Regions from separate parts of the Homo sapiens genome. Here all the other regions are linked to region 1. The links come from fine-mapping of genetic effects on gene expression. A gene starts in region 1. Each other region holds a variant in brackets. All regions are shown on one strand. Distances are between the middles of the regions.

Region 1 (10,242 bases):
AAATAAAATAAAAACAGAACTGCCATATCATCCAATGATCCTGAGTACGCATCCAGAGGAAATGAAATTAGGATCTCAAAAAAGACATCTGCACTGCCATGGGTACTGCAGCACCATTCACAAAAGCCAAGATATGGAATCAGTGTAAGTGTGCACCAATGGATGAATGAATAAAGAAAATGTGGCATATATTTAAAGAAAGAACAAAATAAAAATAAAACAAAGAAAATGTGGTATATCACAATGGAGTATTATTCAGTCTTAAAAAAGGAGGCTGGGCGCAGTGGCTCACACCTGTAATCCCAGCACTTTGGGAGGCCGAAGCAGGTGGATCACCTGAGGTCAGGAGTTCGAGACCAGACTGGCCAACATGGTGAAACGCCATCTCTACTAAAAATACAAAAATTAGCTGGGCGTGGTGGTGGGTGCCTGTAATCCCAACTACTCAGGAGGCTGAGGCAAGTGAATTGCTTGAACCCAGGAGGCGGAGGTTGCAGTGAGCCGAGATCGAGCCATTACACTTCAGCCTGGGCAACAAGAGTGAAACTCCATCTCAAAAAAAAAAAAGAAGGAATTCCTGTCATTTGCGAGAAATGGGATGTACTGAAGGACATTACGTAAAGTAAAATAAGCCAGGAACAGAAAGACGACCACGTGATCTCACACGTGGAATCCCAACTTCTATGAAGAGTTGAACTCCTAGAAGCAGAGTAGAACGGTGGTTACCGGGGCTGGCAGAGGTGGAGGACTAGGGAGATGTTGGTCACAGGGTCAATGCTTCAGTTAGACAGGAAGAATAAATTCAAGAGATCAATTGCACAACATAGATGACTAGAGTTAACAGCAACGTGATATATACTTGAAAATTGCTGAGAGTAGATTTTAAGTGTTCTCAGCACGAGAAGAAAGTATATGAGGTCATGGCCAGGCGCAGTGGCTCATGCCTGTAATCCCAGAACTTTGGGAGGCCGAGGTGGGCAGATCACAAGGTCAGGAGATGGAGACCATCCTGGCCAACACAGTAAAACCCCGTCTCTACTAAAAAATACAAAAAATTAGCCGGGTGTGGTGGCGGGCGCCTGTAGTCCCAGCTACTCGGGAGGCTGAGGCAGGAGAATGGCATGAACCCAGGAGGCGGAGCTTCCAGTGAGCCGAGATTGCACCACTGCACTCCAGCCTGGGCGACAGAGCGAGACTGTCTCAAAAAAAAAAATAATAATAATAATTTTTCACACGCCTGTAGTCCCAGCTACTCAGGAGGCTGAGGCAGGAGAATGGCTTGAACCCAGTAGGCAGAGGTTGCAATGAGCCAAAATCGTGCCACTGCACTCCAGCCTGGCGACAGAGCAAGACTCCGTCTCAAAAAAAAAAAAAATTTTTTTTAAATAAAAAAACAAGGCAGTTATGATAAACCAATCATAATATATATGAGAAAATGACTTGCCTGATATTAACATAGTAGTCCCCTCTTATCCTGTTTTACTTTCCTTGGTTTCAGTTACCCACAATCAAACATAGTCCAAAAATATTAAATAGAAAAATTCCAGAAATGAACTCATGTTTTAAATTGCAGGCTGTCTTGAGTATTGTCATAAACTGTTCTATTTTATTATTCATTGCTGTCAACCTCTTATTGTGCTTCATTTATAGTTAAACTTTATCATAGGTATATAGGTATGAGACATATCCCTGTGGACAGGGAAGGACTACTGTATGCAAAGGAGCTTGTGCACATCCCTGAGATAAACAGGAAAGAGAGCAAAGGACGTGCAAGAATTCTCAGAAGAGAGAGAGATCGCCGGCAGACATATGGGGACTGTGCTGACTGCCCCTAGGTTGAACAGAGACACTCAGCCACCCTTCCAGAGCCGACGGCAGTGCAGCACGGTGCTGCGGAAAGGTCCCCTTGTCCCCGTCGCAGGGCGTGTGACGTTGGTGCGAATTGCTTCTTCAGTGCCCCGCTGCCCAAACCTCTAGGGGGAGCACAGAGACGGGAGGCTGTATCTAGGGATGAATGTTTACACCTGAAGCCCCAGTGGGCGTGTGTTCCAGGGTGCTCTTTTAGTTTGCCGTCTATAGGCAGCTTGTGCTAAACAGCTCAATTAGACCCTCTACTTGTCGCAAGGACAGAGGGCTTTTTGTATCCCGGGTTCTTGCCCTTTGGTGTACCGGCAGAGTCGGATCACACCTGGGCTTGGAGAATGAGTGTAAAGTTCTATTGAGTGGAAGCAGCTCTCAGCCAATGGGGGAGCCAGAAAGGAGATGGTCTTCCTCTGGAGTTGGGCTGCTTGGTGGCCCCAGCTCTCCTCCGACTGCCCTGGCCAAACTCCACCTTGTCCAGCCAGTCGATGGCCTGCCAGAGTGCTGGCATCTGTTGGTGTGTTCTTCCACTGGCGTGTTCCCCTCGAGGTCCAGTTGCTTGTGTCTTCTTCCGCCAATCTGCTCCTCTCTATGTCCAGCTGCCTGTGTCCCTGCCTTGCTAGCATCTTGGAGGTTTTTTTTTTTTTTTTTTTTTTTTTTTGAGACAGAATATTGCTCTGTCACCCAGGCTGGAATGCAATGGCGCAATCTCGGCTCACTGTAACCTCCGCCTCCCAGGTTCAAGCGATTCTCCTGCCTTGGCCTCCTGAGTAGGTGGGATTACAGGCGCCCACCGCCACACTCGACGAATTTTTGTATTTTTAGTGGAGACGGGGTTTCACCATGTTGGCCAGGCTGGTCTCGAACTCCTGACCTCAAGTGATCCGCCTGCCTGGGCCTCCCAAAGTGCTGGGATTACAGGCGTGAGCCATCACGCCTGGCCTGGGTCTCAGGTTTATATAGGCACAGGAGCTATGTATGGCAGGCCAGGGTGGTCTTGGGAAATGTAACATTTGGGCAGGAAGGCAGGAGTGCCTGTCCTCATCTAGGTCCATGGTGGTGGAGCCCTAGCCAGGGACCATGCTCTACTCTACCCAGCACTTCCCTTCCCCTATTCCATAAGGGACCACACTCTTCTCTTCCCAGCCCTCCTGCATCAGTGGCTGGATAAGGGCTCAGTGGCAGAGCCAGTAAGCCATGAGCAGGCATGGAAAATCCCTGTGCCCTGTCCCACCACCTACAAATGGTGACGATCAGTGATGACTAGCTCCTCTATTTGTAGGCTACATGGCAAAAAGTGTCACCAGTCAAAGGCTTGCAGTGAGGCCAGCACACAGTTGAACACCAAGAGCATCTGACGTGCTGAGGACAGGGGCTACTCGGTGCTGGTGCCAGTAGCAGAACCTGAAGAACGGCCCCAACAAGCCTCAGTGGCTAAACATCCACTTTTCCACATCTATCTACAGATGCCCTCGTACTAGTACACACACATGTATATAATGGGGATGTCAGAAAAAAACACAAATGCCAATCAGGGCTCTGGTTAAATTAACAAAAAGCAAACGAATGGGAGAAGGTGGCAGGCAGGGTTGATAGGGTCTTCTCTCCCTACATAGCACACATTTCTGTGTGAATGAAAGAGCTGCTTCCTTTTCATTTAATTCAACCACATTTAGTAAACACCCGCCAGTCACCATCCCAGGCCCAGAGTTCCTGTCTTGAAAGCCCTCCGGCCACAAAAAGTATATGGCTGCCACACCTGTGCCCACAACAGAGGTGCTGCACTGGGTCCAAAAGGGTTAGGAGGGGGTGTGCGAGGCTGTGCAGGCCACAGGAATCAATAGCCCAGAAGCAGTGGTGAGCCAGCCTGCAGGGCTGGGTGTGTGCAGGGAGACTGGGAGGTCACAGAATGCCCCACCCACGCGTCAGGTCCAAGGAACCTTCTCTCCCAGCACAGCAGCCACAGAATCAACTTCCAAAGTCACCAATAAGGCTGATGACCCTGGGAAATGCAATCCCACAGCCCACTGCTCACAGTCCACCGAGAACATGGTTCCTCAATACAGGCCACACCAAGCTGTGTCACTGGTGCTCATGCAAACCCCCAAAACCAGGTGGCCCCTCAAGCTCAGTGAAGAAAGCACATTTCTCATGATGGGCAGCAGTCCATGTTCTCTGCACACTGGCTAGGAGCTCCCAAGAGCCACGGGAGCCTTTCCTGGTGCTCCTACCCCAAAGAAACCAAGCTGGGTGGACCGGCACAGACAGAGGATCTCTACCCCAAATAACCCAGCTCTGTGAAAGGGGGGCTACGAGACAGAGGGCAGCAACCAGGCTTCTCTCCTGGGCCTCTGTGGACCCTGGGAAAGAAAACTAAGCACCAGCACCTGTTTCCTGACACAGGAGACAGCCACGAACTCAGGCAAGCACATGCCCCACAGCCTCCACCTCTGACCCCCTGGTGTCCCTCAGCAGTCAGCAATCAACCCCAGCCAGTGGGAAATGACGAGGTGCAGGTCTCCACAAGCCACAGCGGCCTGCACGTCAGTTTCAAGTTAACAAAAACACCTTAGCCTCAGGTCATTCCACTCTGACATCAAAGAGAGACCAGAGACACCTGTTCACGGGGACCCTGAGAGCCTGAGACTGAGCACTGAAGATCCTGCTGACGGCAGCACCCTAGGGTGCCCAGACTGTCCATGCAGCCACGTCACAAACACGTACCACCTATGAAACATGCCGCAAACAACGATTCCCACACGCATCTCCAGCCCTCGCCTCGCCGGGACCCGAGGTCTTCGGGACATCTCCATCCATGGTCATCGCACTGAGACCCAACAGCTCTAAACTCAACTCACCACCCTCACCTGACTTATCACCGGCCCTACCCTGCCTGCCTCTTACCGCATCGTGTGCGTTCACCACCATCCCCTTCCAAAGTGGTCCCTGCCTACAGGGCTGTCCCCGACCCAACTCTGCTCACATCCCTAAGTTCGGCCACACCCCCGTACCCCTTTTCTGCTTACCTCACTGCACTTGAGTTTATGAGTCTGTCCCTTCCCCAACTGAGCAGGCAAAGGAGCCCCTCCCCAGAGTGTGTAGGACCGAGCCACCAGCGCCCGCAGAGTGGTTTCCTCTGACCCTCACACTGCAGCTGCACTGACGCTGCCCGAAAATCCGACCCCCTAAGTCTCACCTTGGCTGAGTGAGGGCTGGCTCCCGGCGGCCCTGCCAGCGCTATGCCCGGCACGCTATGACCAGTCATCCTCGTGACTAGGGACAAATCACCTTCCTGCTCGCGATCGTCAGAGAATACGGAAGGCATACGGAGGCCCGGGGCACGCCGGCTTTGCAGGCTCCGGGCGTATGCTTGGCTTCCCGGAGAGAGGACCCCCGGTGGCCCCGCCTGGGGGGAGAAGGGCCGGGGACCACCGCGCTCCCGGGGAGGGCCGGGCACTGGGGACCACCGGGCTCACAGGAGGGGCGGGCACCGGGGACCACCGGGCTCCCGCGGAGGGGCGGGCACCGGGGACCACCAAGCTCCCCGAAGAGGGGTGGTCGCGCGGCCGAGACGACTTAGCGGCGCAGAGGAGGAGCACAGCCGCACAGCTCCGGCCTCTCTTCCGGGCTGTGGCGCGGCGCACACCTGAGCCGAGGTCCCCGCGACACCCAGGACCCTCCCAGCGTTCGCCCTGTGACCTTGGGGAGGCGCCTCCTGACTCGGCTTCCTCCGCGGCCCCGCCAAGGGAGCCGCCCCAGGCTCTTCAGCCCAGACTTCCCCGAGGGGCTCTTCCCCAGCGCCGCCGAAGGCTCATCCCCACCCGCCGTTTACCTGAGGAGCCGCCGCCACCTCGGCCGGGGCGCCGCCTTCCCGCCCAGCAGGGGCCCGGAGTGGGCGGAGCCGCGCGCGCCGAGCCCGCCCCCGCTGCCTTCTGGCCACCCGCAGCCTGGAGCGCGGCAGCAGGTCCCCGCCCCCGAGCGATCTCTGCACTTATTGGTCGGGGGCACGTCTCTCACGCTCGCTCCACCCCGCCCACCTTCATTTGCAAAGCAGCAGTGCGCAGACTCCGCCTCACGCTCGGCCCCGCCCGTCTGTTGAGCGACAGTTCGGCCGCCACGGCGCAGGCGCGGCCTTCAGGCTCGCGACAGCTACGCCAGCCCCGGGGTGCTGCAGTCCCCGTGTCCCCGTCGGACGCATACAGCCCTGACGACCTCCGCTCCCAGACGCCGGGGACGCGGGCTCGGCGCGGCGTTGCGGCCGCTCGCAAGCACACGCCCGCCCTGGACTCGCGCGGCCCGCCCGCCCTCTGTCTGCCCCGGAAGCGCCAGCTGGAGGCCGCGGCACCCGGAGGGGGGCAGGACTCGCAGGGCCCTGCGCTCGTTGGGAAAGAGGCGACCAGCGGGGTCCCGGGAACTCGGGACGCGATAAGAGCGATGTGAGGAAGGAAAGCGCCCGCCGCGCGTCCAGGCTGGGCGTCGGCAGAGGCGGAGGCGGCGGGAGCAGCGCGGGCAGGATGTCCACTCCTGGCCGGAGGGACTGGGCTCCCGCTGTGGGGACGGCGCCCGGGAGAGCGCAGTACCCTTTGCGGATGCGGGCGCGGCCCCTGCGGCGGCTTCCCACGCGCCTGTGGCCTTGTCCCCTCCCGGTCTCGGTGCCGCCCCCGCCTCACGCACACCAGCTGCCGCGCGCAGCACAGCCCCACTTTCACTCCGATCACAAACGAACGCCAGCCCCTCCGCCAGGGGCAGGCCTGAGTCTGTATTTTGCTCCCGAGGGCTGCTTACAAAGCCCCGCACGGGACGGCTGCCCAATGAAGCCCCGGGAATGGACTCAGGTGCAGGCAACGACGCGGATAATCGAGACTGCAAAGGGAGGGTGGACAGAGCCAATGGCCGTTCTGATCCTGCAGTCATCACTTGGCTTGACACTCGCGGGCTTCCAGCTGTGTCCTGCCACTGGTGGGAGCGGAGGTGTGCCGCAGGGGCCGCAGGCTCCCAGGCTCCGCAGCAGAGCCCAGAGGCTCAGCCACCCTGGGTCGGGACCACCTGGCTCCGGTTCTAGAGTGGCCGCTTCTTGCAGCCCCCACCTTCGACGAACTCCACCCTGCCCCCGTGCCTCTCAAGCCCTTCTGACACTTAAGCAACCAATCCCACCTGCTTAAATTGCCTGGCGCAGTTTCTATTTTTTTCCTAATGAAGGGGTGGCCTGCCCCTCCACACCTGTGGGTATTTCTAGTCGGGTGGGACGAGAGACTGAGAAAAGAAATAAGACACAGAGACAAAGTATAGAGAAACAACAGTGGGCCCAGGGGACCAGCACTCAGCACACCAAGGACCTGCACCAGCACCGGCCTCTGAGTTCCCTCAGTTTTTATTATTATTTTCATTATTTCAGCAAAAAGGAATGTTGTAGGAGAGCAGGGTGATGAGAAGGTCAGCAAAAAACGTGAGCAAAAGCATCTATGTCATAATTAAGTTCAAGGGAAGGTACTATGACTGGACGTGCACTTAAGCCAGATTTATGTTTCTCTCCACCCAAACATCTCAGTGGAGTAAAGAATAACAAAGCAGCATTACTGCAAACATGTCTCACCTCCCACCATAGGGCGGTTTTTCTCCTAGCTCAGAACTGAATGTACAATCGGGTTTTATACCAAGACATTCAGTTTCCAGGGGCAGGCAGGAGACAGTGGCCTTCCTCTAACTCAACTGCAAGAGGCTTTCCTCTTTTACTAATCCACCTCAGCACAGACCCTTTACGGGTGTCAGTTTGGGGGACAGTCAGGTCTTTCTCATCCCACGAGGCCATATTTCAGACTATCACATGGGGAGAAACCTTGGACAATACCCTGCTTTCAAGGGCAGAGGTCCCTGTGGCTTTCCACAGTGCATTGTGCCCCTGGTTTATCGAGACTAGAGAATGGTGATGACTTTTACCAAGTATACTGCTTGTAAACATTTTGTTAATAAAGCACGTCCTGCACAGCCCTAGATCCCTTAAACCTTGATTTCATACAACACACGTTTTTGTGAGCTCCAGGTTGGATCAAAGTGGCTGGGGCAAAGCTACAAATTAACAACATCTCAGCAACGCAATTGTTTAAAGTACAGGTCTTTTTCAAAATGGAGTCTCTTATGTCTTCCCTTTCTACATAGACACAGGGACAGTCTGATCTGTCTTTCTTTTCCCTACACCTAACCCCCAGGTCAACCACAAACCAGTTTGTTTCTTCTGAGGTCTAACTGTCCCCTAGGCTGGAGTGCAGTGGCGCGATCTCGGCTCACTGCAACCTCTGCCTCCCGGGTTCACGCCATTCTTCCGCCTCAGCCTCCCGACTGGCTGGGACTACAGGTGCCTGCCACCATGCCCGGCTAATTTTTTTTTTTTGTATTTTTTGTAGAGACAGGGTTTCACCGTGTTAACCAGGATGGTCTCTATCTCCTGACCTCGTGATCTGCCCGTCTTGGCCTCCCAAAGTGCTGGGATTAAAGGCATGAGCCACCGCGCCCGGCCCAAGCTGGGTTTTATTGTTGAAATGAGGCCTCTCACTGTTACCCAGGCTGGAGTGCAGTGGCACAATCATAGCTCACAGCAGCCTTAAATTCCTGCGCTCAAGTGATCCTCTCGCCTCAGCCTCCCAAATAGCTGGGATTGCAAGTGGGAACCACCAAGTCTGGCTAATTTTTAAATTTTGTTGCAGAGACAAGGTCTCACTATGTTACCCAGGCTGGTCTGCAACTCCTGGCCTCAAGAGATCCTCCTGCCTTGGTCACCCAAAGTGCTGGGATTACAGGCATAAGCCACTACACCCAGACCTTGTCCTTATTTTCTGTATCCCAGGCAATTTGCCAAACAAGGCCTGAGGGTGAGCAAAGGAATATCAAACACATGCTTTGCTCTCAAGAAGCTCGTGGTCCAAAAGGGATGAGAAAGTGTGTTTTTCCAGTTCAAGCCAGCCCATTCTGGGGCCTTTTCTGCAGCAAACATGCCAAGTGCACCCACAGATCTTGGTGGAGACCCCAATTCCCCAGACTCACTGGTCTGTACCAAGCACCAGACCCTTGCAGACATTCCCAGGATGGCTGCCCATCAGGCAGCCCTGCCCTCCAGGCCCACAGCCACTGTGCTGTCTAGCTCACAGCAGAGATGACACATTTGGGTTGGGCTTCCCCACCATGGCGGCTCAATTTCATCATCTGTAAAGCGAGGATTGCTTGGTTGTGTTAGGACTTGAGATCCCAGATGTGAACTGCCCCCACAGGCTGGGCTCCTGAATGTCTTCTGTGAACGGGGGCAGGACTGCTACAGGTGGTAGTGGTAGCTGGTGCGACTGCCCAGAATGGCACCCGGCACAGAGCTGGCACTCAAACGTTAGCAGTAATAGTGCCCACAGGGCACTCTGGGGTCCAGAAGGGAGGGGCAAGGTTGGCTTCTGTCTCTTGGAACTGTAGGATCAGAGGTAGGCTCAGGAGTGGGGCCCTTGCTTGCCCTGGGGTGTGTGGTCAAGTCTGCAGAGGTCTCTAGGTGGGACGCTTCCTGCACCTTGCTGGCCTGGGCAGGAGGTGCTTCAGGCTCCAGTGGAGAAGGCCGGGAGACAGAGCTCCTGCCTGCCTTCCTCTGGCTCAGCCCACCTTAGGGCCCAGCTGAGTGTGGCCATGGCATCCTCTCGAAGGAGGGGGTGCAGTTGAAATGGTGGTTGACACGTATGTGTCCCTTTTCCTGTCCTTATGCCCCAGAAATCCCCACCCTCATTTCTTTAACAGCTTTCTGTGGCCAGCCACGTCCATAGGGGTCCACAGAGGCCTCACCCTGGCTGCAGCCCTTGAAATGGGTTTTCACCTCACAGAGAGTGGGCCCCATGTGGGCAGGACTGGTCCCACAAGATGTCCTCAGAGTGGGCAGGTCCTCAAAACAAGAAGACGCACCCTTTGAGGGCACAATGCAGGTACAGCTCAATTCTCCACTCTAGAACCTGCACCTCGTCTCCCAGAGCTGGCCCTCCCCCTGCCCAGTCCAGAGCTGTGCCAGCCCCCGCCCTGAGCTTGCAGCCCCATCACTCCCTGCCTCTGCCGCAGTCCCAGCAAGTCTTCAGAAGTGTGGCTGCTGCCTCAAGAGGGACGCAGTTCCCACCCAGCACCCCCTACCACCCTGGCCCCTGCCCTCTGACACAAGTCAGGTCTCAGCTGTGCCCCCCAAGACTGGTGAAACTGGACCACCACACCCCCTTCCATGCACTGCCCTCCATGAAGGGCAGCAGCAGGCAGAAGCTGGATCAGAGAACCTTCACGGAGCAGGTGCGTGAGTGCAAGGACAATGGCTACCTGCTCTCCTCCAAGAAGATCAGTTCTGGGGCCTTCTCCAAGGTGTACTTGGCCGATGCC
Region 2 (10,242 bases), 61 kb before region 1:
AAGACAACTGGACAGTAAATAAGATCACCACACACTGTGGCAGCATCAGGAGAGGTGCAGACGAGAGGCTGAGAAACATATTCATGGGGGTGCTGCACTGGAAGAAGGGGGTCAACACCAAGGGCTATTCTGAAAAGTGACCCTGAAGCTAAGACTCAAAGGAAGAGAGCTGGCTATGTGGGAGCCACAGAAAGATGATTCCAGGCTGGAAGAGCCTCCAACATCAGGCAGCCGAGTGTGGCCAAGGAGAGGTCCCTGGTGGGAGCTTGGCCCAGGTTGCTGGTGGGAGCAGAAAGGCCGTGGTGAGGAGCAGGGCTCTGTTCCAACTGCAGGGCACTGCAGGACCAACATCAGGATATTCTATGAAATTACTGTGTTTTAAAGAAAAAGAAGAACATCTTTTGGACATCAGAAAACAAAACCAAAACAAAGAAACAAAAAAAAACCCCATGGCATCTAAGAGGATAGAAAATTAGATTATCATCAGACTTCGATAACAATGCTTTATGCCAGAATAGGGTTGCCAGATAAAATATGAGATGCTCAGTTAAATTTGAATTTCAGATAAACAATAAATAATTTTTTTTTTGAGACGGAGTCTTGCTCTGCTGCCCAGGCTGGAGTGCAGTGTGTGATCTTGGCTCACTGCAACCTCTGCTTCCCAGGCTCAAGTGATCCTCCTGCCTCAGCCTCCTGAGTAGCTGGGATTATAGGCACACGCCACCACGCCCAGCTAATTTTTGTATTTTTAGCAGAAACGGGGTTTCACCATGTTACCCAGGCTGTTCTTGAACTCCTGACCTCAAATGATCTGCCTGCCTTGGCCTCCCAAAGTACTGGGATTACAGACGCGAACCACCGCTCCCAGCCCAGCAAATCATGTTTTCAGTACAAAAATGTCCCACACAATATTCGGGGCATCCTGTTTATTTGTTTTTGCTAAATCTGGCAACTCTCTGCCAGAAGAATATGGAATAACTTAAGACACTCAAGGAAATGTCAGCCAAGAATCCTGTAACCAGCAAAACCATCAACGATAAAAGGCACAATAAACTATGATCAGCAAGCATGAGGTCGAAGATCATGTTCCCATGAGCTCTTCCCACGGAACCTACAGAGAAAGAGCTTTGGACAACAAGAGTGGCAGAGAGCCATGAACAGAGGATGGGGCTGAGGGCCACATGGGCAGTCGCCCGCAGAACCAACACCAAGAAGGCAGAGAAGGGAGAGCACGGGATGTAACAGCCGTGGTGACTCAAGCAACAGACGCGGGCGCGGCCGTTAGATCAGCAGGCTGCGGAGCAGCACGTGCAGGGCAGTCCTCATGTTTCAGTCGTGTGACTGCTGATGGCAACATCAGTGTTATTCTGGTGTTAGTGCTGCCTGTGTAACGAGATCAAACAAATGGTAATTATGGGATAGTCCAATTCTATTAACCTTGAGAACTGGATTCCTGAGAACAGAGATAGAGACGTAACAGAAAAGAGGTTAGATGCGGTGGCTCATGCCTGTAATCCCAACACTTTGGGAGGCCGGGGCAGGTGGATCACTTGAGATCAGGAGCTCAAGATCAGTCTGGCCAACATGGTGAAACCCTATCTGTACTAAAAAATACAAAAATTAACTGGGTGTCGTGGCGCATGCCTGTAGTCCCAGCTAGTAGGGAGGCTGGGGCATGAGAATCGCTTGAACCTGGAAAACAGAGGTTACAGTAAGCCATGATCCCACCACTGCACTCCAGCCTGGGGAACAAAGCAAGACTGTCTCAAAAAAAAAAAAAAAAAAAAAAAAAAAAAGTAACAGAAGAGAGGTAAAAATCTCTGAGGTCCATATGTTGAACTGGAAGTATCAACATGAACTCATAAGGTATTTTATCTATCTACTGATAGAGATATTTCCTAGCTCTGTCTACTGAAAAGGCCCAGGAATAGTAACCATCCAGAAGTAATGAGCCCTCCAGAAACAGACTACTGTCTTAAAAGGTAACTTCTTGGCTAGGTGCAGTGACTCATACCTGTAATGCCAGTACTTTGGGAGGCCGAGGCAAGTGGATCACTTGAGCCCAGGAATCCAGGACCAGCCTGGGCAACATAGTGAGACCCCATCTCTACAAAAAATAGAAAAATTAGCCAGGTGTGGTGGTGTGCACCTGCAAGTCCCAGCTACTTAGGAGGCTGAGACAGGAGGATCCCTTAAGCCCAGGAGGTTAGGGTTGCAGTGAGCCGTGTTTGAGCCGCTACACTCCACCCTGGGCGACAGAGTGAGACTCCATCTCAAAAACAAACAAACAAACAAACAAAAAAACAACACAGCTTCTCACTAAAAGGAACCAGGGCTATTTTTGTAGAAATGGCCAATTCCAGGTCTAAAGCAAGAAACAGATGAAAGAAGCCTAAAACATGAGCTGCCAAAGACCAGCAGGGCCGTATCAGAGGGATTCAGATCTCAAGAGGCTGCCGCTTGCCAAAGATGAGACGATCTGAGCTTCGGTGATGGTGATGACTGCTCTGGATTGAAGCCATCAAATGCGTCCTTCCAAACCACCTCTGGAGGGTGATAGGAAACCAATCCACTACCTTGAAAACTGATAAATAAAAACACAAAAGAATCAAGGGCTGAACCTACCTTTCTTTTTCTTTTTTTTTTTTTTGAGATGGAATTTCACTCTTGTCGCACAGGCTGGAGTGCAGTGTCGCAATCTTGGCTCACTGCAGCCTCTGTCTCCTGGGTTTAAGCGATTCTCTGCCTCAGCCTCCTGGATTAGCTGGGATTACAGGCCCGCATCACCATGCCTGGCTAATTTTTGTATTTTTTAGTAGGGAGGGGGGTTTCACCATGTTGGTCAGGCTGGTCTTGAACTCCTGACCTCGTGATCCACCTGCCTCCGCCTCCCAAAGTGCTGGGATTACAGGCATGAGCCACTGTGCCCGGCCAACCCTGCCTTTCTTATATGAACCATACCCCTGGGTAAGCAAATGGTACCTGGGGCAAGTATCTCTTTGTCAAGGTGTTCCACTTAATGAAAAATAAATGATAGAATTATAGTATCATCCTCCCACCAATTAATTAATTAATGGATACAGGCATTCAGCATCAATGCTGCTAAGACTGACGTTCAAAGGAGAGAATACCACATATCACATGACTCCTATCGTCTTGCCCAAGGGACTGAGCTTGAGTCTGAATCTGTTTCTGAATCCAGCTGCCAATGTGCTAGAAATTCAGATGGCAGAGAAACATGTTGACTTGCACCTTGACAATGCAGTCAGCAAAACTCAACGATGAGCAAATCCACAGAATAAACAGCCAGGTTCTTCTACAGATAAATTATAAGAGAAAGAGAAGAACGGAGGGGAACCTGTAGCTTATGAGGGACTTAAATATGGGGAGTTGCTGTTTCACAGGCACGGAGTTTCAGTTTTGCAAGATGAAAAGAGTTGTGGAGGCAGATGGTGGTGACAGTTGCCTGACAATGAGAATGTACTTAACACTACTGAAGCATTTGCTTAAAAACGATTAAGATGCTAAATTTTATATTGCATGTATTTTACCACACTAAAAATAAACAAAATCACCAATGGTCAAGCCTCCAAAAAAAGACTTAAATCTATGTAAAAATATATTTATACATTATTATCTCTATATAAATTTGAATGTATATATATATAGAGAGATAGAGAGAGAGAGAGAGACAGAGTCTCCATCTGTCACCCAGGCTGGAGTGCAGTGGCACGATCTTGGCTCACTGCAACCTCTGCCACCTGGGCTCAAGCGATTCTCATGTCTTAGCCTCCTGAGTAGCTGGGACAGGTGTGCGCCACTATACCCAGCTAATTTTTGCATTTTTAGTAGAGATGGGGTTTCATCATGTTGCCCAGGCTGGTTTCGAACTCCTGGCCTCAAGTAATCTGCCTGCCTTGGCCTCCCAAAGTGCTGGGATTACAGGTGTGAGCCACCGCACAGGGCCTGTTTATGCAGTGGCGTAATCTCGGCTCACTGCAACCTCCCCCTCCCAGGTTCAAGCAATTCTCCTGCCTCAGCCTCCCAAGTAGCTGGGATTACAGGCACCTGCCACCACGCTGGCTAATTTTTGTATTTTTAGTAGAGACAGGGTTTCCCTGTATTGGCCAGGCTGGTCTCAAATTCCTGACCTCAAGTGATCCGCCCCTCTCAGGCTCCCAAAATGCTAGGATTACAGGTGTGAGCCACCGCACCCGGCCATAGGTAGGCTTTTAAAGTGGACACAGCTAATCATAAGGGAGTGATTACTATAAAAATCAGGATAGCTGTTACTTGTTGGGGAGTGAAGAACTGTGACTGGAATAGGATGCAAGGAGGGGCGTCTCGGTGGCAACTTCAGTCCAAAAGACCTGGTGGTAGATCTGATGTTGTTGTCTTAGAATGATATGTAATAAGTCACACATTTGTTTTATGTGGTTTCTACATTTCCTTCCCTTTTTTTTTTTTTTTTGAGACAGGGTCTCACTCTGTAGCCAAGGCTGAAATGCAGTGGCACCGTCACAGCTCACTGCAGCCTCGACCTCCTGGGCTCAGGTGATCCTCTCACCTCAGTCCCCAGAGTAGCTGGGACTACAGATGCATGCTACCACACCTGGCTTTTTTTATTTTTAGTAGAGACAGGGTTTCACCATGTTTTTCAGCCTAGTCTGAAGCTCCTAGGATAAAGCGATCTGCTTGCTACGGGATCCCAAAGTGCTAGGATTACAGGTGTGAGCCACTGTGCCCTTCCATGATTTCTTTTATACTAACGATTTTTCTTTTTTCTTTTTTTTTTTTTGAGACGGAGTCTCACTCTGTCGCCCAGGCTGGAGTGCAGTGGCACCATCTCAGCTCACTGCAAGCTCTGCCTCCTGGGTTCACACCATTCTCTGCCTCAGCCTCCCAAGTAGCTGGAACTACAGGCGCCCGCCACCACGCCCAGCTAATTTTTTGTATTTTTTGTAGAGACGGGGTTTCACTGTGTTAGCCAGGATGATCTCAATCTCCTAACCTCGTGATCCGCCTGCCTCAGCCTCCCAAAGTGCCGGGATTACAGGCGTTTGAGCCACCGTGCCCGGCCTATACTAACGATTTTTCAATGGGGATGAACAATCTTGAAGAAGAATAAAGTTGAAGGACATCCTCTACCAGATTTAAAGCCTTAGGATAAAACTAAAACAACTGAGAAACTGTGATATTGGCCTATAATCCCAGCACTTTGGGAGGCTGAGGCGGGCAGATCACTTGAGTCCAGGAGTTTGAGACCAGCCTGACTAACATGGCGAAACTCCGTCTCCACTAAACACACACACACACACACACACACACACACACACACACACACACACAAAATGGCCGAGTGCATTGGCTCATGCCTGTAATGCCAGCACTTTGGGAGGCTGAGGCAGGTGGATCACCTGAGATCAGGAGTTCAAGACCAGCCTGGCCAACACAG[T/C]GAAACCCTGTCTCTACTAAAAACACAAAAATTAGCCGGATGTGGTGGTGCATGCCTGTAATCCCAGCTACTCAGGAGCCTGAGGCAGGAGAATCGCTTGAACCCAAGAGACAGAGGCTGCAGTAAGCCAAGGTCGCGCCACTGTACTCCAGCCTGGGTGACACAGTGAGACTTTGTCTCAAAAAAGAAAAAAGAAAAAAAAAAGTGTGATATTGGTGTAAGGAAAGAATAGAGTCCTGAAATATACCCACTAACATATGATGCTATAAGTTGAATTGTGGCCTCAAAATTCGTATGTGCAAATCCCAACCCCTGTACCTCGGAATGTGACCTTATTTGGAAATAGTTACTGCAGAATTAATAAGTTGAGAGGGGGTCACACTGGAGTAGGGTGGGCCCTTCATCCAATATGGCTGGTACCCTTATAAAAGGGGGATATAGGGATACAGACAGGCACACAGGAAAAATGCACATGAAGATAAAACAGAGATCAGGGTAATAGAAAAAAAAAAAACCCCACCCACCAGTCGGTGGTACTTTGTTACTGCAGCTGTTACATTAATACATAAGGTTACCTGACCTTGTACCAAGGCACAGAAGCAATTCAATGGAGAAAGTAAAGTCTTTTCAACAAGTGAGACTGGAACAACTGGACATCCATATAAAAATAACCTTGCAGGCCGGGTGTGGTGGCTCACGCCTGTAATCCCAACATTTTGGGAGGCCGAGGCGGGCGGATCACCTGAGGTCAGGAGTTTGAGACCAGCCTGATCAACATGGCAAAATCCTGTCTCTACTAAAAATACAAAATTAGCCGGTGTGATGGCATGTGCCTGTAATCCCAGATACTCGGGAGGCTGAGGCAGGAGAATCACTTGAACCTGGGAGGTGGAGGCTTCAGCGAGCTGAGATCGCACCACTGCACTCCAGCCTGGGCAACAACAGCAAAACTCTGTCTCAAAAAAAAAAAAAAAAGTAATTAAAAAAAAACACACCTTGCCCCCTACATTTCACTCACACCCAAACATTAGTAAAAGATGAATCACAGACATAAATTTGCAAGCTCAAACAATAAAGCATCTAAAAGAAAATATAGAAGAATATCTTCATGACTTCTGAGCAGGCAAAGGTTTCTTAGACATAAAGGTACTAATCATAAAAACATATATTTATGTCTCTATGTATCCAATAAAGAACACTACAAAATAATCATAATAAAACGACAAACAACCCAGTTGTTAAATGAACAACAGCTGGGCATGGTAGTGCACTCCTGTAACCCAGGCTACTCTGGAGGCTGGGGCAGAAGGATCGCTTGAGCCCAGGAGGCCGAGGATGTGGTAAGCTATGATCACAGAACTGCACTCTAGCCTGGGTAACGTAGTGAGACCCTCTCTCTATAAATCAATCAAAATGGGCAAAAGACCTGAACAGGGGTCGGGCGTGGTGGCTCACGCCTGTAAATCCCAGCACTTTGGGAGGCCAAGGTGGGTAGATCACGAGGTCAGAAGATCAAGACCATCCTGGCCAACATGGTGAAACCCTGTCTCTACTAAAAATACAAAAATTAGCTGGGCATGGTGGTGAGCGCCTGTAGTCCTAGCTACTTGGGAGGCTGAGGCAGGAGAATTGCTTGAACCCAGGAGGCGGAGGTTGCAGTGAGCCAAGATCGCACCACTGCACTCCGGCTTGGTGACAGAGCACGACTCCATCTCAAAAAAACAACAACTGGCCCCCCACCCCCCAAAAAAAAGACTTGAAAAGGAACTTCAACATATATACGCAAATATATCTGAAGGTCAATAAGCATATGAAAAGGTGCTTCATCAATTTACTCACCAGGGAACTTCCATTTTTTTTTTTAAATTTCTTTTCTCTCTCTTTTAATTGAGACAGAATCTCGCTCTGTCGCCCAGGCTGGAGCGCAGTGATGCAATCTTGGCTCACTGCAACCTCTGCCGCCCGGGTTCAAGCAATTCTCCTGCCTCAGCCTCCAGAGTAGCTGGAACTACAGGCGTGTGCCACCACACCTGGCATTTTTTTGTATTTTTAGTAGAGAGAGGGTTTCACCATGTTGGCCAGGCTAGTCTCAAACTCCTGACCTCAGGTGATCCACCTGCCTCGGCCTCGCAAAGTTCTGGGATTACAGGCGTGAGCCACCGTGTCTGGCAAAGAGGACAATTTAAAATGAGAAAAAAGGCCAGGCACGGTGGCTCATGCCTATAATCCCAGCACTTTGGGAGACCGAGGCGGGTGGATCACCTGAGGTCCAGGAGTTCGAGACCAGCCTGGCCAACATGGCGAAACCCCATCTCTATTAAAAATACAAAAATTAGCCGGGTGTGGTGGTGTTCGCCTGTAATCCCAGCTACTCAGGAAGCTGAGGCAGGAGAATCGCTTGAACCCGGGAGGTGGAGGTTGCAGTGAGCCGAGATCGTGCCACTACCTTCCAGCCTGGGCAACAAGAGCGAAACTATGTCTCAAAAAAAAAAAAAAGAACATGAACAACCCAAGTGTCTGTTAACAGGAAAACAAATAACTTTTAAATTCAGAAAATGTAACAGAATACAACTTAGCAGTAAAGAAGAGTGCACTGACAGCAGCACCGTGCTCAGTGAATGCCTACGCTCACGAAGGGTCCTCCTACAACTAGCCCATCTACATGGAACTCAACAGCAGGCAGAATTAATTATGGTGACAGAAGTCATAACGGTGGGCCGGGTACACTCCTGCAGTCCCAGCCACTCAGGAGGCCGAGGCAGGAAGATCCCTTGAACCCGTGAGGTCAAGGCTGCAGTGAGCTGTGATCGTGCCACCGCACTCCAGCCTGGGCGACAGAGCACAAGCCTGCGCTGTGACCTCATAAAAGAGGTCACTTCTTAACAGTAGGTGTAGGTGTTAGCTGAAAATAAATACAAGCAAAACTTTTTGGGTTTTAGAAAAATGTTCCACATTTTGATTTGAGTGGTAGTCATATGGGTGAACAATGTGTAAAATGTCACCAAGTATACAGTTAAGATTTATGCATTTTACTGCATTTCTATTGAAGATTATGTTCAATTTTAGAAAATAAAATTCTGGAAGAAAATATGACTGGAGGCCAAAAGCCTTTCAAAAATTTGATTTATAAAAGTATCTAAGATAGGCAACAATGACACAACACACATGTAACAGGGAATCCCAGAGAAGGCTTCCGAAGTCATGGGGTACTGAAATGCTATGACTGAAAAACAAGGTCTCTTGAGATAAAACAGAATTGACGCAAATGCTGAATGCGCACTCTATGGACCTGGGGGGGAAATCAACTCAGAATAGCCAACACTGAGACACAGTAAAATTTCCGGTTTTAAGATATAAAACAGCCTGTAATCCTGGCATGCATGCGTGTGTGTGTGTGTGTGTGTCTATATATATGCAAAGGATTTATATATATATAAAAATCCTTTGGGCATCTAGGCAGAAAAGACCAAATCATATATAAGGAAAATCCCAGTCAAATCAGATAGTCATCAATGAGTTATCAATAGCAGTAACAGATTCTAGAAGACAAGAAAGCAACATATTAAGATACCTCAGACTTTTATACCCAGCCACTTAAACTGAGATGGCCTGGTGTCTAACACAAGAAACAGCTCTCTGGACCATGGACTGAAAGAATGACATGCAGGGACCAACCACGGCCTCAACTTGCAATCATGTTCCAATATTTTCATTGAAAACTTGATGACTTCTGGCTGGGTGCAATGGCTCACGCCTGTAATCCCAGTACTTTGGGAGGCCAAGGTGGGAGGATTGCTTGAGCCCAGGAGTTGGAGACCAGCCTGGGCAACAAAGCAGGACCTCATAACATACCCACAAAAATGGCTAAAATTAAAGACCAACCAATGTTGGTGAGGACATGAAGCAATAATGCTCATAAGCCACTTGTGAGACATAAGGTGTGGGGTATAAATTGGGGTATAAACAGCTACTTTGGAAAAACAGAAGGGTTTATCTATGCAACTTGAACACATACATACTTTATAACCCAAAATTCTACATCTAGGTAAACACTAACTGTGTAAAGGACAAATGTTAATAGTGGCTTATGCATTAACAGTTAAATACTGGATATAGCCATTTACCCATCACAGGCAAAATGAATCACTGTAGTAGATAATTCACTGGAATCCTTCACGGGAGTGAAAATAAATAAGCTGTACTATATGTATAAATTTCACCAAGAGAATACTGAGGAAAAGAAGCCAGATACAAAATTATTTACACCATACAATTCTCTTTGTACAACATCCTGAAACAGCAACACTATCTTCTATTGTTAGAAGTCACCCCTTCTGAGGGACTTGAGAGTGCCACCCCTGGGTGTTGTCAATGTCCCATTTCTTCACCTGGTTGGTGAATAAATACATAGGCTTACTGTGTGATTATTCATGAAGCTGAACAGTTAACGTGTACATTTTTCTGTATGTGTATTATACTTCAAATAAAAACAATTAAAAATGACATAGACGGCATAGATGCCCATCTCACTTCTGTAATCCCAGCACTTTGGGAGGCCAAGGAAAGAGGATCACTTGAACCCAGGAGTTTGAGACCAGCCTGGGCAACATAAGTAGACCCCATTTCTACAAAAATACAAAAAAACTGGCAGAGTGTGGTGGTGCACACCCGCAGTCCCAGCTGCTTGGGAGGCTGAGGTGGGAGAATTGCTTGAGCACAGGAGCTCAAGGCTACAGTAAGCTATGACTGCACCACTGCATTCCAACCTGGGTGAAAGAACGAGACCC
Region 3 (10,098 bases), 160 kb before region 1:
GGGGAGTCGGGCAGGCACGGAGCTAGCTGCAAGCATCCGTCTTCCCCCAGGAGGCCACTGCAGCCCGGCCCTTCTGTGCCCTGGGCCCCTCCTCATTGCAGCACCACCCACCGCACCACCCTGGGACAGAGGAAACACATGGAGGCCATAGCATAGAGCCTGTCTGTTTATAGATCTCTGCCTGTCTTGTCCGTCCATCCACTGTGTGTATATATCTGTGTATCTCTGTGGAGCGGGGAACGGGACAGTTGTGTAAAAATCCAAAATACAATTCTGACTATGAACAACCTGCAGGGTCAGTCCAGGTGTGGCTGTGAAGCCCCAACCAAACCACAGGACACGGGGTTGGGGGAAGGCAGACTGGCAGGCCAGGGTGACCCTCCTGACCAGAGGTGCTGCCCAGACCCGAGCCCGTTTGTCCTACTGGGGCTATGGCGGCCGACCCACCAGTGCCCAAGACCGCGAGGCTGCCCTGCCTCCCCAAGACCAGCCCTGCACTGGGGGTGGGGGTGGGCGGCTGGCCCAGCTCCTCCGGGGCCTCTAGGAGACAGTGGGGTCCTTGGCTTTGGGAGGCTCCGAGCCTGTCAGCAGGGAGATGGTGGGGTCCTCGGCGAAGCCGTCCCCTTCGGAGAAGTAGGAGCCCTCTCCCAGCTCAAACAGCACCGGCAGGTCGTTGCTCCCGGTGTCCACGGAGCCGGGGTCCAGCAGGAACAGCGGCTGCGCTGTGTAGTGCACCAGCTGCTTCCCTGCGGGGGTGGGGGTGTCAAGGCGGTGGGGGGTTGGGGGCAGAGGTGGGGCCGGTGGGACTTGGCTCACCTGAATCCGGGCTGCTGTTCTCTGCCTCGGGAGGCCTGGGGGGCTCCTGGGGAGACAGGAGCTCTTGGATCTGTGGGGTGGAGACGGTATTGTGAGCACTCCCGCTGGTCTCGTTCCCCCTCACCCCCCGCCCGCCTACGCACACTGGCCAGGCTGCTGTCAAGGTCAGGCAGGCTCATGTCGGGCACGGTCACCGAGGGGCTGAACAGCTGCGGAGGAGGGAGGGAAGTCAGAACAGCACCCGGGGGCGGGGCGGGGAGGCGGGGCGGGGAGGCGGGGCGGGGAGGCGGGGAGGCGGGGCGGGGAGGCGGGGAGGCGCGGGGAGGCGGGGCGGGGAGGCGGGGCGGCGGCGCGGGGAGGCGGGGAGGCGGGGCGGGGAGGCGGGGCGGCGCGGCGGGGAGGCGGGGCGGGGAGGCGGGGCGGCGGGGCTCCACTCACGTCCAGCAGGGCACTGGTGTCCACGCTGAAGCCGTGGCTGCTCAGCATGGTCTGCAGGTTATCCAGGTTGGAGTCCATAGCATCCAAGTGGTCACTGAGCTCATTCCTGGCCCGGGATAAGGCGGTACCTGAACCAGTGCCCCAGGCCCCACACCCCAATGCCCTCCTGTGGGAGAAGGGCTCCCCTTGACTGTACCCCCCAGGCTGCACCCCCGTGTACGCCTGCACAGGCTGGAGGGGGCAGCGCATTCGAGGACGGCCTGGAAGGCAGTGGAGGCTCTGTGCCCTGCAGGGGTGCGGCTGGGCCTATGCTGGGCATCCCTTTGCCATGAGGGCCTGGGGGCCTTGGTGGCAGTGGACCCAGGAGACAAGGGGCGTATTCAGCTCCAGCACAAGGATCAGGGATTTCAGTGTTCAGGGTTGGTGAGGTTTCCCGTTGCACTGGGAAAACAGGTGGGGCTCTGCTCAGTGTGTGGGTGGCTCAGTCCCTGCCCTGGTGCTGCTGTGGGGATGAGACCCACGGTCTGGTGGCTGTGACCAAGAAAGCCCTAGGCCACAGGGCACACCTGGGCTATGGGACGGACAGCCAGGCTGGGTCCCAGAGGTGCCCTGGAGACCCTGCCTGACAGGAAGTGCAGTCAGCACCGCAGTCTGGATCCTGCCAACACCAGAGGCCGTGCCAGAGCAGGGAGGCCTGTCCCTGTCATCCCTGTCACAGGCAATGACCACAGGCCCGTGGCCAGGGGAGCCATGACGACACTGAGCCCCCGCCACAGAGGGGTCTCGGCTGCTGCCGCCCAGGCCCGACGCTCATGCCCGGCCAGGCTGGGTCTGGTCCACGGCTGTGTGGGAGGGCCCGAGCGCTGGCAGAGCCCTCCTCCCTCCCCAGTGGGGTCAGCGCTAACCCTGGCTGGACTTGGCCATGCGGAGAGGAAGAGGGGCAGGGGAAGAGGCGGGCGACCCTAGACATCTGTGGAGTGCGAGCCAAACTGCAAGATACAAAAACAAGAGCCCCCATTGCAGGCAGGGGCTGGGGGTGTGGAGGCCGGCCCTGCTCACCATCTCCTGCCATGTGTCTGGGCAGCACGACCTGCCAGGGCCCGTGGCCTGTGGCGAGGGTGGCGGCAGCAGGACGGGTGGCTGAGAGCAGGGCCCGGCAGCCTGTCCGGACATGCCCGTGGCTTCTGTGGCGTTTGGGACTGTGGGGTGATCTGGCTGGCACCTGTCTCCCTCCCCAGCCCCGAGC[T/C]CCGAGGTTGGGGGTAGGGTCCTGCCTCGCCAGCTGCCCTGCTCAGTCCACTGGGACAGTCGGGGCTGAAGCCCAGGGCTGTGCGTCCAGGCGCTGTGGGTGGGGCCAGGGGTGGGCGGCACTCACTTGTCCAGGCAGGCTACGCTGAGGCACTTTTCAGGGGTGGAGGTGGGCGGGGGGGAGGGAGGCCGGCCCTCGGTGTCCGTGTGGCCCCTGGCGTCCGTGAGGGCTGTGACGGAGGCGGGGGCAGGTTCACTCTCCCGCAGGATGGAGTCAATGAGGGCGGTCGGGGACAAGAGGGTGTCCACGGAAGATGGGCGCCCGGGACTCGCCTCCTCTACCCGGGGGCTCTGAGGCGGGCTGGGGGGCTCCTCCTTGACACGCACCAGGGGGCTGCTGGATAGGGGCCTGCACACGAGGGGGGCCAGGTGAGCTGGCGTCTCGGCCAGCCCCACCTCATCCCCAACTCTGCCCTGGGCCCACAGGGGCTCGCCTCATTGGGGGACAGGATGGCTGGGGTGATGCGGCCCCCACCTCTCGTCTATGCTCCCGCCGGGGGAGGCCATGGGGCTGGCAGGAGCCAGCTCGGTGATGTCGGAGATGATGGGTCCAGAGCTGGCCACAGCATCAGGGGCGTAGAGGCTGGAGCTGCTGTAGGCTGGGGAGGGGGCCTGCAATCAAAGGCAGGAGGTCCATGCAGTGCCGGCAGGGGCAACCCACCCCACTGCCGCCTGCATGCCTGGGCGGGTGCCCTGTCTCCGGCACTCACCGAGTAGGGGCCCGAGCCGTGGACGTGCTCCAGGGAGAACTGCCGGCTATACTTGGGCATGGAATGTGCTGAGCCACTGTCGTTCAGCATCAGGGGGCTGTGGGGAAGGGTGCAGGTCAGCCACCACCCCCCACCTCGGGGTACCCGGGGCACAGCTGACAGAGAAGGGGGACAGCCCTGGGCCCCGGGTGGTGGATGCAGGCATCCCCAAAACCTCACATCTTTCTCTTCACCCCCAGGATCCGGTTTGACTGCACCAGTGAGATCAGGAACTGAATGAGCTGTGGAGAGAGAGGACACAGTTACCCCGGCCCTTGTGGGGCCCCCGCCGGCCCTCTGGCCCTGCCCCCACCTTGTTGACGACTTTCTGTTGCTGGGCATGCTTCTGCCGAAGGCTGGCCACCTCCCGCCACAGAGCCTCATTCTCACTGCAACAGACCAGGCTGGGTCAGTGGGGCCCAATCCCATGAGCCCCAGGGCTGAGGGAGCCCCACAGACCCTCCCTGTCCCCCATGCAGGAGCAGGGGTAAGTGTGACCATGTCTGGCCTGGCCCACCCCAGGATGAGAACTTGTGTGTGGAGGGACTGGGGGCCAGGGCCAGGGCTTGCTGGTCCCACTGCCCCTCCCTGCCGGGGACACCTGGTGTCACGTAGGGTGTTGGGGATGGATCCATGCGAGCCAGGTGCACCCGGATCCTGGCATCCATCCTGGCAAACACCTGGAGGGCTGCCTTGGACACAGGCCAGGAGCAGACCCTTGGGCCGCCCTTCCAAGGCCTGAGCAGCCAGGTTAAGGGAGGACGGTTCTTCAGGCTGCGACACTGGCTGTCCCATGTCCTGTAGGTGCTCAGGGCCCTCGCCAGGCCTGGAGGTGGCTCAGGGGTGGGGAAGAGCTGTCCCCAGCCAGGTGAGCAGGGCCATGACCGCGCTCCTGCTGCTCTGGGAGGCTGGGCCCTGTCAAGCCTGTGAGTCTTCTTGGTAGGCCAGGTCCACGTGGCCGGACTCCAGGAATCACAAAGCCGGTGGCTCCTGCTAGACCCCATGCAGGAGAGTCTGAGGCCAAGGCCTCCTCCATGACGTGGGGGTCAAGAGCGCCTGCTGCACGGAGCCGAGGAAGCCGTACTGGCATTGGGGTTCCCGCATGCCTGGAGCCCCAAAGTGGACGTGAGACCTGAGCTGGCCTTCCGAGGTGGGCTTGCCTCAGTTTCTCAGGTGCCACCGTGTGTTAGGCTCCTGCTAAGGTTTCCCCAGAGCCGCAGGGTCCCGGTGAGGAGGGGCTGGGGGCTAGCTCCATGGGCCCAGGCGAGTGTGGGACAGCGGTTCCAGGAAGGGCCTGAGGTGGGTCTGACCCCAGGCCCGAGGCGGGTGGGACGGGTCTGCTGTGCAAGGCTTGTCCTCAAAAGTAGGCTGGTGGGTCCCGCCAAGCTCGGAGCCAGGCAGAAGCCAATGGCCCAGAGGGCGCTGGGGATGTGCAGAGCAGGGGACCCTCCCAACCCCCTTCTGCACATGGAAAACGGCTGGCCCCAGAGCTGTTGCAGCAGCCACGGGCGGCGGGGCTGGGGCAGAGGCCCAGGGTAGATGTGCGTGGAGCGGGAGGGTGGAGCTGAGCACCTGGCCCCGGTCAGGGCCCTGCCCCCACAGCACCCGGGGCCTCTTGGTGGGCGCCAGGACCCGCTGTGGCCCATAATGCTGGTGTGGGACCTACTGCTTCATGGCCAGGAGCTTGGAGTCCATGCACTCCTGCTTCCCCTTCATCAGCTGCACGTCCGTCAGCAGCTTGGTGACGCTGTCCTGGCGGATCTTTATGTCTTCACTCTTCAGGGTGGACACCTGGATTCCCGAGAGGGACAGGAGTCACTGGAGCAGCCTAGGAGCTTGGCAGGCTCAGGCTCGTCCACTGCAGCCAGGTCCCTCAGGAAGGGGCAGGCTGGGGTGGGAGCCCTCAGGGAGGGGCGGGCGGGGAGAGCTGTGGCAGGTGAGACCGGGCAAGGGTGCAGGGCCGGCACTCACACTGGTCACTTTCCTCTTGATGTTCTCAAGGAGCTGCTCCTGGCCACGCAGGAAGCATGGGTGCTGGAACTCCGTGTCGTCTCTCTCTGGCTTGACCAGGCCGCCCTGCTCGATGTGGACCACTTTCCGGAAGCCATCTGCACATAACAGGGAAGGGGGCAGCTCTGCCTCAGGGCGGGACCAGAACCCCTGAAGAGCGGCCACTGCTCCAGGAGGCTGCTGCGGGGCTTGGCCATGGTCAGACCCTGCCCTGCCCCCTCAGAGCCCATGCCTGGGTGGCCGAGTGGCCTTGGTCTAAGGGAGACCCTGTGTCCCCACAGGGCTCCCTGCGCCCGACACACGTGGAGTACAGCTCCGGCTTCACGGTTCTTCCATGGGGACCCCAGGTTCATACCCACAAGGACCCTCCCCCATGGAAGAGGCGGCTGCTCCCCGGCCCCCAGGCTTGCAGGGTCCCACGCCATGCCCTTGGCCAGCACAGGACGCCCCGTCCTTCATCACAGGGTCCTCCTGCTGGGGTCCCGCCATCTGCAGGTCTGCCTCCCGCACCCCTGCGCTGCCTGGAGGCAGCACTCACACATGTTGAGCTGCCGCACGAAGCTGGCCATGTTGTTGTGCTTGAAGTACTTGGGCAGCACCTCCTTGGCAAACTGGCCCTGGTCGAACACGTGGAAGCTGTTCCCGCTCTGAAAGGGAGACACATGGGTGGGTCACGCGTGGTGGTGAGGGGCAGCGTGCCCAAGCCGCCCCTTCCCCAGGCCGCCCCTTCTGAAACGCAGGCAGTGCACGTTCCACCTGATGGGGCTGGGGCCATGGGAGGCCCAGGGGGCTGGCGGGAGGCGAGTTCGTTCCTGGGACCACCTGCCACACGGGCCTCATCTGTGCAGCGTGACCTGCATCCTCACTGTGAGGCCCAGGACTGGGCGGTGGGCAGATGCGAGGCCTTCCTCTCAGTCGGAAAGCCCCTCCCCAGGGCTTCCAGAGAAGGCCACGTTTCCACTCACAAAGCATCCGCCGCACTCTGGCCACATTTCCACTCACAAAGCACCCGCCGCACTCTGGCCACGTTTCCACTCACAAAGCACCTGTTTAAGCAGGACCTTTCCCTTGGGAACAGCGAAGGAAATGGAGCCCTAATTTCATTACTCCCGAGGAAAACACAGTCGCGTTCAGAAATCCAAATTCAGTCTTGTTTTGTGACGTGAGACAAGAAACAGAGACAGTCAAACACTGCATATACCTTCCTCTTCCATTTCTCTACCGAGCTCAGGCCCAGAGCTATCAGGAGGCGCTGGTGAGGGAGGCATCCCTGTTGGCCGTGGCCGCGGTGGCTCAGAGGGGACATCGAAGGCTTAGGGGACAGCGAGAAGCCCACACGGCGGGGAAGGGGGGCCTGAAGCAGGGCCAGAGAGGGGTGAGGGGTGTCTGCATAGGAAGGGGCGGCTGACTCAGTGAAGAAACTGGTGAAGGGCAGTGGGGCAGGTTTCTCCCTGCCAGGGAAGGGAGCTGCAGATGCAAACAGGGAAAAAGCCAGAAAGACCCCCGTGGTGTGGCACTAGAAGTGGAGAACCTCTTTCCAGCATAGAGAGATGTGAAATACACAGGGATGTACACGTGTCAGGGAGGGAAACGGTCACGGAAAGGACCCCAAGGCAGCAGGAGAGAGACGGCGAAAAGCGCCAAGCCAACTTTCCAGAACTCTGAAAGTTAACCAAAGAATTACAGTAGCACGGGGAGCATTTATTCAAGAAAAACAGCTGAATCTTAGTAAGAACAGTGGGCTTTGTGAACTTTTTTTTTTTCTGAGACAAGGTCTTGCTCAGGCTGGAGTGCACCAGCACCAACATGGCTCACTGCAGCCTCTGCATCCCAGTTCAAGCGATTCTCGTGCCTCAGCCTCCCAGTTCAAGCGATTCTCGTGCCTCAGCCTCCCGAGTTCAAGTGATTCTCCTGCCTCAGCCTCCCGAGTAGCTGACTATAGGCGCCACCACGCCCGGCTCATTTCTGTATTTTTAGGAGAGATGGGGTTTCACCATGTTGCCCAGACTGGTCTCGAATTCCTGACCTCAATCAATCCGCCCACCTTGGCCTCCTGCAGTGCTGGGATTACAGGCGTGAGCCTCTGTGCCCAGCCAGGCTTTGTGGCATTTTACATGCCCTATTCCCACTCCATCTGCAGCCTTAAAAACCAACAGCTGCAGTCCCCGTGGGAACAGCGTCCTGGCAGCCGCTGCGGGGTGGGCCAGGGCTTGAGCTCCTCCAGGGCCCCATTCCCAGAGGACTGTCAGCATCTGACCTAAGAGTCCACTCCCAAGGCTGTCTCTGATTTGACTTGAAGCTCTCCTGAATAAAAAAGCTGTTTGCCGAGGTGTGCCTGTTGAAACCTTTACAGGTGATTTTTGAACGCTGTGGCTGCCTGAGGCAGTGCCTGGCAGCTGGGGAGAAGGAGGTGCCACTAGGGGCTCTGAAAAGCTCTGAGATATTCCAGGACATCTCGCAGCCGTGTACACGTGTGAGCCGTGCCCGTGCTCAGGAAAGACCTGAGCCAGCCCCGAGCTCTCACTTCTGGCTGACCTTGAGGCTCTGTGTAAGCAGGAAGTCAGGCATACAGTTGGGTTGTCCACTGCCTGGCCGAGTGCTGAAGGCGTCCCCAACACACACACACACACACACAGCCCCCGGAAAAGACGGGAGACTCACTGGCCCCAGGCATTCAAGAACATTTCTGCCCCATCACCACCTATCTCAGTTAACTGAACAGAGACGGCAGTGGCCATAAACAAGAAAGAACGCAACCTTTACAGAATTAGTGCCGAAAAGCTACCTGACAGATAACCACGACAAACAGCAGCAATGACAAATCCTGGGGAGGTGGGGGAGTCCGAGCTCCAGAGCTGCCACTCTCAACCGATGAGAGTTCCAGTTTTCCAGCCGGCTGCGCTGGTTCACGCCTGCGGTCCCAGCACTTTGGGAAGCCGAGGCGGGTGGGTTGCTCAAGCTCAGGAGTTGGAGACTGGCCTGGGCAACATGGCAAAACCCCGTCTCTAGAAGAAATACAAAAATTAAGTGGGCGTGGTGGCGCACACCTATCATCCCAGCTACTCAGGAGGCTGAGGAGGGAGGATCCCTTGAGCTCCGGAGGTGAAGGCTGCAGTGAGCTGTGATTGAACTACTGCGCTCCAGCCTGGGTAACAGACTCAAAAACAAACAAACAAACAAACAAACAAAAAACTCTAGTTAAAAAAAAAAATAGAGATATGCAAAGAAACAAGAAGCTAGGACCCATACCCCATACACGGGAAAAAAAAAAAAAGGCAATCAATAGAAACTGTCCCCAAAGAAGCCAAAACATTGGACACTGGACTTACGAGGCAAAGATTTTAAGTCAATCATTTCAAATATGTTCAAACAACTAAAGGAAACCACATCTGAAGAACTAAAGTATGAGAATGACATCTTATCAGAGAGTATCAATAAAGAGATAAAAATTGTAAAGAAGCCCGAAATCAAAATTATGGAGCTGAAGAGTTTAATAACTCAGATTAAAAGTCAACCAGAGGGGCCGGGCGCGGTGGCTCACGCCTGTAATCCCAGCAGTTTGGGAGGCCAAGGCAGGCGGATCACCTGAGGTCAGGAGTTGGAGACCAACCTGACCAACATGGAGAAACCCCGTCTCTACTAAAAATACAAAATTAGCCAGGTGTGGTGGCTCATGCCTGTAATCCCGGCTACTCAGGAGGCTGAGGCAGGAGAATTGTTTGAACCCGGGAGGCAGAGGTTGCAGTGAGCCGAGATCGCGCCATTGCACTCCAGCCTGGGCTACAGAGTGAGACTCCGTCTCAAAAAAAAAAAAAAAAAAAAAAAAAAATTAACCAGAGGGGCTTAAGAGCAGACCTGACTAGGAGAAGAAGGAGTCAGCAAACATGAAGATCAGTCAATTGAGGTGCTCCAGTAGGAGAAAAAAAGACAGAAGGAATAAGAAGGAGGAGCCGGCCAGGCGCAGTGGCTCACGCCTGTAATCTCAGCACTTTGGGAGGCCAAGGTGGTTGGATCACGAGGTCAAGAGATCTAGACCATCCTGGCCAACATGGTCAAACCCCATCTCTACTAAAAATACAAAAAAAATTAGTTGGGCATGGTGGCATGTGCCTGTAATCCCAGCTACTTGGGAGGCTGAGGCAAGAGAATCGCTTGAACTCTGGAGGCAGAGGTTGCAGTGAGCCGAGATTGCACCACTGCACTCCAGTCTAGTGACAGAAAGAGACTCTGTCTCAAAAAAATAAAAACAAAAACAAAAATGAGCAGAGCCTCAGAGACCTGTGAGACACCACAAAAAGTGTAACACAGCCGGGCATGGTGGCTCACACCTGTAATCCCAGCATGTTGGGAGGCTGAGCCAGGCGGATCACCTGAGGTTAGGAATTCGAGACCAGCCTGGCCAACATGGGGAAACCCCGTCTCTACTAAAAATATAAAAATTAGCCGGCACAGTGGCGGGCGCCTATAGTCCCAGCTACTCGGGAGGCTGAGGCAGGAGAATCGCTTGAACCCAGGAGGCAGAGGTTGCAGTGAGCCGAGATCACCCCACTGCACTCCAGCCTGGGGGACAGAGTGAGACTCTGTCTCAATAAAAAAAAAAAAAAAGGATTAAAATGCCTGGTGTGGTGGCTCATGCCTGTAATCCCAACACTTTGGGAGGCTGAGGTGTGTGGATCGTTTGAGGTCAGGAGTTCCAGCCTGGCCAGCATGGTGAAACCCCGCCTCTACTAAAAATGGAAAAATTTTAGTGTCGTGGCTCATGCCTGTAATCCCAGCTACT

Alleles and levels. Positions count from the first base shown, and alleles are read on the strand shown. Sizes are in standard deviations (SD) of each study's normalised expression. Not every link is listed here.
For the expression in cerebellar hemisphere of the gene that starts at base 5,753 in region 1, allele T in region 3 goes with a lower level than allele C (small effect, 0.24 SD a copy in GTEx).

Evidence for each region. PIP is the estimated chance that this variant, and not a neighbour inherited with it, causes the effect.
Region 2: its variant is the best candidate, but not a certain one, in a credible set for the expression of MROH1 in whole blood (TOPMed, PIP 0.72).
Region 3: its variant is the best candidate, but not a certain one, in a credible set for the expression of MROH1 in cerebellar hemisphere (GTEx, PIP 0.88).

Annotation. Positions count from the first base shown.
Region 1 is chr8:144,143,527-144,153,768 of GRCh38, reverse strand. It overlaps MROH1 (maestro heat like repeat family member 1), which reads right to left and starts at 5,753. Exons shown (of 44, transcript NM_032450.3): 1 at 5,693-5,753. It also overlaps the pseudogene TSSK5P. RefSeq lists silencers at 5,522-5,901, 6,072-6,271, 6,392-6,481.
Region 2 is chr8:144,204,135-144,214,376 of GRCh38, reverse strand. The region is part of intron 12 of MROH1 (maestro heat like repeat family member 1); the gene reads right to left. Among named protein-coding and RNA genes, the nearest start is that of MIR7112, 53 kb to the left of the region's middle. The variant T/C (reference allele first, on the strand shown) is at 5,456.
Region 3 is chr8:144,304,773-144,314,870 of GRCh38, reverse strand. It overlaps HSF1 (heat shock transcription factor 1), which reads right to left. Exons shown (of 13, transcript NM_005526.4): 2 at 5,857-5,965; 3 at 5,280-5,416; 4 at 4,975-5,099; 5 at 3,622-3,697; 6 at 3,489-3,550; 7 at 3,270-3,366; 8 at 3,035-3,171; 9 at 2,627-2,908; 10 at 1,255-1,360; 11 at 960-1,025; 12 at 817-886; 13 at 151-746. The coding sequence ends at 541. DGAT1 (diacylglycerol O-acyltransferase 1) reads left to right here. Exons shown (of 17, transcript NM_012079.6): 17 at 1-287. LOC124902050 reads left to right here. Exons shown (of 2, transcript XM_047422537.1): 2 at 51-287. Among named protein-coding and RNA genes, the nearest start is that of MIR6848, 7.5 kb to the left of the region's middle. RefSeq lists an enhancer at 1,555-2,086. The variant T/C (reference allele first, on the strand shown) is at 2,501.